Regions from separate parts of the Homo sapiens genome. Here region 2 is linked to region 1. The links come from fine-mapping of genetic effects on gene expression. A gene starts in region 1. The other region holds a variant in brackets. All regions are shown on one strand. Distances are between the middles of the regions. Region 1 holds the start of OAS2 (2'-5'-oligoadenylate synthetase 2). Region 2 overlaps OAS2 (2'-5'-oligoadenylate synthetase 2).

Region 1 (3,019 bases):
CTGGCAAATCCAAAATCGGCAGGGTAGACTGGCAGGTGGGAGACCCAGGAAGGAGTTGCTGCTGCAAGTGGAGGCCAAGGCACTGCAGCCGAATTCCCTCTTCCTTGGGGGAGCTCAGTCTTTAGTCTATTAAGGCCTTCAACTGATTGAATCAGGCCCACCACCTTACAGATGATAATCCACTTTACTCAAAAAAAAAGTCTACCAATGTAAATGTTAATCTTATCTTTAAAAAATACCTTCACAAAAAGATCTAGGATAATGTTTGACCAAATATCTGGGTACCTGGGCTCAGCCAACTTGACACATAAAATTAACCATCCCAGTATGGAAGGGCCCTGGTCCCCCACTACATCTTGGAGATTTTTGCCTTCTCTGTGAATTATTATTGCTGGGCCAAGGCAGCTGGCTGGGAGTCCTCTGCGAGTTTTGTTTTCAAAGCTCTGGGCACAGGAGTTGCATGTCTGTCTCCTTTCTGGCTCACACACTTGGGGTGTGTTTTCTTGCCCTTGCGAGGCTGGACAAGTGCCTCATACGGTCCCTCGGCTGTCCACAAGTGTGCTGAGAAACTGGACACACAGAGGTTCCCACCCGCTGACCACACGGGGGCCTGTGTTTACCCAGAAGCAGACCAAAACCTGAGTCCAGCTAGGTCCCTGCTTTGCTGTGTGTCCCTGAGCAAGTCAGTTCCCTCTCTGGGTCTCTTTTTCCTCTCTGCCGCTTTCCCTGAATGTGAGTTCCCTGGCCACTGAGAACAGGGGGAAAGGGACAGAGCCTCAAAAGATGACCTGTGCGCCCCTGCTTCTAAGCACTTTGCAGGTATTATTTAATCATCAAGCTAATCCTACGAGAGAGCTGCCATTTTCCCCCAGCTTACAGATGGGGGAATTGAGGCGCGAAGAGGGCAGGCGATGTGCTCAAGGACAGACATCTAGCAGGTATGAAGCCCTCACAATGGGGTTCTAGAGGCTGTTTAGTTAACCTCAAGTTTTGGGGAGCCCCTGAAGGGCTGGTCACCACGCTGCCGGGGACAGGGAAAGCCTCTGAGCTTGAGTCAGTTTTGGTTTCCCTGCTGGGGTGCAGGAGTCAGTAAACCTTGCTGCAAGGGGCGGGGAAGAGCATTTGAGCTTAAGTTAGTTTTGGTTTCCCTGCCCCGGATGCAGGAGTTGGTAAACTCACTGCAAGGGGCAGGGCAGAGCCTCTGAGCTTAAGTTAGTTTTGTTTCCCTGTCCCGGATACAAGAGTTGGTAAGCTCGCTGCAGTGGGTGGAGAGAGGCCTCTAGACTTCAGTTTCAGTTTCCTGGCTCTGGGCAGCAGCAAGAATTCCTCTGCCTCCCATCCTACCATTCACTGTCTTGCCGGCAGCCAGCTGAGAGCAATGGGAAATGGGGAGTCCCAGCTGTCCTCGGTGCCTGCTCAGAAGCTGGGTTGGTTTATCCAGGAATACCTGAAGCCCTACGAAGAATGTCAGACACTGATCGACGAGATGGTGAACACCATCTGTGACGTCCTGCAGGAACCCGAACAGTTCCCCCTGGTGCAGGGAGTGGCCATAGTGAGTCCAGGGCTGAGGTTGGGTCTCTGGGAGGCAGGAGATTCCACGGCGGCAGCAAGGCCGAGCTACTGGGTGCTGGGTGCCTATTATGTGCGAGGCCCACACTTGGGTGGGATGTGGTGTAGGAGTCTCAGGCTCTGGAGCAGGCGCTTGCTCCAGAGCTGTGTGACACTGGGCAGGCTACTTAACCTCTCTGTGCCTCAGTCTCTGACTCTGTAAAATGGGGAGAGGCATAATACCCACTTCAGAGTATCGTAAGGCTTGAGCACATCATGTTCTTAGCAAAAGACTGGCAGTGCTCAGTGAATTCACTGTGATTACTCACTGCGATTTTCTTCTATCCTCTCCACAGTACAGAGGAGTAAACTTAGGGAGGCTAGAGAACTTTGTTCAAACTACCCAGGTTGCCTTGTGGTTTCTCCGCAGCAAGAAGGAGTGGCTTTTATCAGTTAGAAATATTTGGTTTTGTGGACACAAATCTCAGGACTGAGGCTGAAAATTCTGGACCTCTGGGGAGGAAGGGGGACTGGGGAGATGCCAGGACCCTAGAATTGGGGGCGTGGGGGTCCTGATGGCCCAATACTATCCTCTTAGCCTCCTGAGCTGCTGACGTCCCTTCTCTGCTGCTGCCACACTTTTTGGTCTCTACCCCTTGCACACATCCGCTAGTGCCTCAATAAAGAAATCTAGACACGTGGTGTCCCCAGCCCTGGCCCAGGCCAGCAAGCTAAGGCAAGTTTGGTTAATAGCTATTGTCAGAACTGGGATTTTAAGCCTGGGTAATTGGCTTGAGGGCATGCATGTTTAACCACTACACTATCCTGCCTCTCAATTTTTTTTTCCTCATGGAAGTAAAACAGAAAAAGTGCCCAGATCAAAGTGTCCAGCTTGATAGGTAGCCACAAACAATGTAACTGTGTAACCCCCACCCAGATCCAGAAACAAAACATTCTCAGCCCCCCAGAGCCCTGGGCCCCCGATCCAGTCAGCACCTCCAAACCCAGGTAGGCAATCTCCTGACTTCTAACAGCATAGACACGTTTTGCCTGTTTTTAAACGTTTTACAATTATAGGGTGACCAACTATCCCAGTTCATCCAAGATTGGGGTGTTTCCTGGGATGTGGGACTCTTGGTGTGAAAGCTGGGAATGTAAACCAGGATGCATGGGTGAACCCTACATAAATGGCATCATGGGCTCTGTGTGCTTTAGTGCGTGGTTTCTCTGACCTATGATGTTTATGAAATTTATGTTGTGGGGTACAGTTGTTTATCTTTTCATTGTTGTGTCAATTCCATTATGTGAATATTCCACATTTGTCCATTCTACTGTGTTTTTTTATTTTTACATAATTGTGCATATTTATATGGGGTACATGTGATATTTGGACACATGGATACAATGTGAAATGATCAGGGTAGTTAGGATATCCATCACCTCAAACATTGATCATTTATTTGTGTTG
Region 2 (2,730 bases), 29 kb after region 1:
TACCAGTAAGCCATGAACATTAAGCCCTGTTGCCCACAATCTCCCATGCTGAGGGCTGAGCCACTTTGGAGAATCTGCCCACTGGATATCTTTACGACGTTCCCATCACTAACCCTATTCATTTGGGTCAGGCGTTGATGGCTTCTGCCCATCAAAGCTGCTACATGTGGTTTACTTTGCCCTCACACTGGCCAAAGAATTCTGCAGGAATCCAAGTGACCTTGCCTACAGAGGGTGGGTGGAAGCTGGGATTCACATGCCCACACATTGCCAATAGGACTTTTCTGCTTCCCGGCGCACATGCTCTCTCTCAGAAGGCAGGTTGAAGCTGTAGGTGGAACCGGGGCTGCATTTTCTATACACCCAGCTCACAGGAGCTTGAACAACTGGTCAGCCCCTGAGCCCCTACTACAAGTGATCCTCAGGCAGGTAACCCCAGATTCATGCACTGTAGGGTGCTGAGCAGCATCCCTAGTCTCTACCCAGTTTCCCCTCACTTGCACACAAAGTAGCTTCTGAACATCCTCATGACAGTAAACATCAAGCACGATATCAGCTCTTCCTGAGATGCCTCCTTTCTGTGTCCAGCTCCCTGAAATGTGAAACCAAGACCAAACTCTGTAGTTTTCATCCCAGAAAATCAGAGAGCTGGCATGGCGTGTCAGAAGACTTGGGGCTGTGGCGTGACCTTGAGTGAGTCACTCCACTTCCCGCAGCTTCAAAGTCTTCATCTAAAATGCAGGTCATGCTGCCTGCATTGTGGGGAAGATTAGGAATGATGTGGGTAAATGCCTGGGCCCATAGCTGGCATGCAGTGGGTTTCTAGTAAACTGTAGCTATGTTATTGTCCTAGGAAGGCATATATGGTCAAAAGCACAACAAAGAAACTCAAATGTGCTGCTGCCAGGTGGACTCCTGTAGGCTGTACAATTTAGACATCCAAGCTGCAGAGTGTGAGCACACCAGCACGACACTGTGACTCAGTTGCCTTGCTGTGGTCCCTGTGCGGCTCTCACTGAGCTCCTAGGCTAACCAGTTCGTCTGATGTTCCCACTCTTACCTAGTGTGAAAGGAAACTGAAGCCAAAGGGGTCTTTGCCCCCAAAGTATGCCTTGGAGCTGCTCACCATCTATGCCTGGGAGCAGGGGAGTGGAGTGCCGGATTTTGACACTGCAGAAGGTTTCCGGACAGTCCTGGAGCTGGTCACACAATATCAGCAGCTCTGCATCTTCTGGAAGGTCAATTACAACTTTGAAGATGAGACCGTGAGGAAGTTTCTACTGAGCCAGTTGCAGAAAACCAGGTGCCTTCACCCTAGCCCCGTACTTTTCTTAACCTGATTCCCTTGAACACTGTCTCAGCAACC[T/C]GGATTTTCCTCTGCTGGGGTCACGATTCATTCCTTGCATGACGGGGGAAAGTGCTAGCCAACAGAACCTGTCACAGTCTCCAGGGATAAAACCTAGCAGGGGCAGGAGAAAATGCTGTTCAGAAAAAATAGAGAAGGAAGGTTCAAGATACCACGTCCCTGAGCTGCTTTCATCTAAGAGGTGTTAGAGTTGGAAGTGTGTCCCTAAGAATTAACGCTATCATTCACGGGCCGATTTATCCTGCAGGGTTTTTATTGGGTTAGGGTTTATCTACTCTTTCAGACCTTCAAGAATAGTAAGAAATCATATCCATCTGCTTAGGGCCACCAGCAAGGGACAAAAACAATGGAAACCAGAGGAAAGGAAAGAGAGAAAATAAAGGAGCGTTGAAAAAGAATAGAGGAGAAGTAAGAGAGAAGGAGACCCCCGGTGGGTTGCCTACCCTGGGTTCTTGGCAACATTGTATTTGATTAAATTATGTATCATATTTTAGCTGACATAGCAAGGAGGAGATATTTAGACTATGCCTTCATTATGCCTTCATGAGTATAGCAATTAACAGCTTTCAAAACGCTTTTGGCAAATACAATTTAATTCTAGGAAGTTGCTTTGGTTTTGGCTTTTGTTTTTGTTTTTGAGACAGAGCCTCACTCTGTCACCCAGGCTGGAGTGCAGTGGCACAATCTCAGCTCACTGCAACCTCTGCCTCCCGGGTTCAAGCTGGTTCTCCTGCCTCAGCCTCCGAAGTAGCTGGGACTACAGGTGCGCACCACCACGCCCAGCTAATTTTTGTATTTTTAGTAGAGATGGGGTTTCTGCATGTTGGCCAGGATGTTCTCGAACTCCTGGCCCTCAAGTGATCCTCCCACTTCAGCCTCCCAAAGTGCTGGGATTACAGGCATGAGCCACTGCACGCGGCCTCTAGAAAGTTACTTTGAACCCTACTAGTAAATTTGAGTTGCTGACATCTAAGCTGTAAGAACACATTGTCTTATTGCTGAAAGTATTATAGGATGGACCCCAAATTCTGAAGTCACTGGGATTTGGAATCTCCTAATGCCTTCTAACCTCTCATTCAGGCCTGTGATCTTGGACCCAGCCGAACCCACAGGTGACGTGGGTGGAGGGGACCGTTGGTGTTGGCATCTTCTGGCAAAAGAAGCAAAGGAATGGTTATCCTCTCCCTGCTTCAAGGATGGGACTGGAAACCCAATACCACCTTGGAAAGTGCCGGTAAAAGTCATCTAAAGGAGGCGTTGTCTGGAAATAGCCCTGTAACAGGCTTGAATCAAAGAACTTCTCCTACTGTAGCAACCTGAAATTAACTCAGACACAAATAAAGGAAACCCAGCTCACAGGAGCT

The links.
Region 2: its variant is fine-mapped to the expression of OAS2 in whole blood (TOPMed, PIP above 0.99).

What each region holds. Positions count from the first base shown.
Region 1 is chr12:112,977,231-112,980,249 of GRCh38, forward strand. It overlaps OAS2 (2'-5'-oligoadenylate synthetase 2), which reads left to right and starts at 1,289. Exons shown (of 10, transcript NM_002535.3): 1 at 1,289-1,555. The coding sequence starts at 1,379. RefSeq lists enhancers at 834-1,643, 1,864-1,943, 2,114-2,193, 2,304-2,453.
Region 2 is chr12:113,006,641-113,009,370 of GRCh38, forward strand. It overlaps OAS2 (2'-5'-oligoadenylate synthetase 2), which reads left to right. Exons shown (of 10, transcript NM_002535.3): 9 at 1,065-1,303; 10 at 2,447-2,730. The coding sequence ends at 2,615. Among named protein-coding and RNA genes, the nearest start is that of OAS2, 29 kb to the left of the region's middle. RefSeq lists an enhancer at 96-1,295. The variant T/C (reference allele first, on the strand shown) is at 1,367.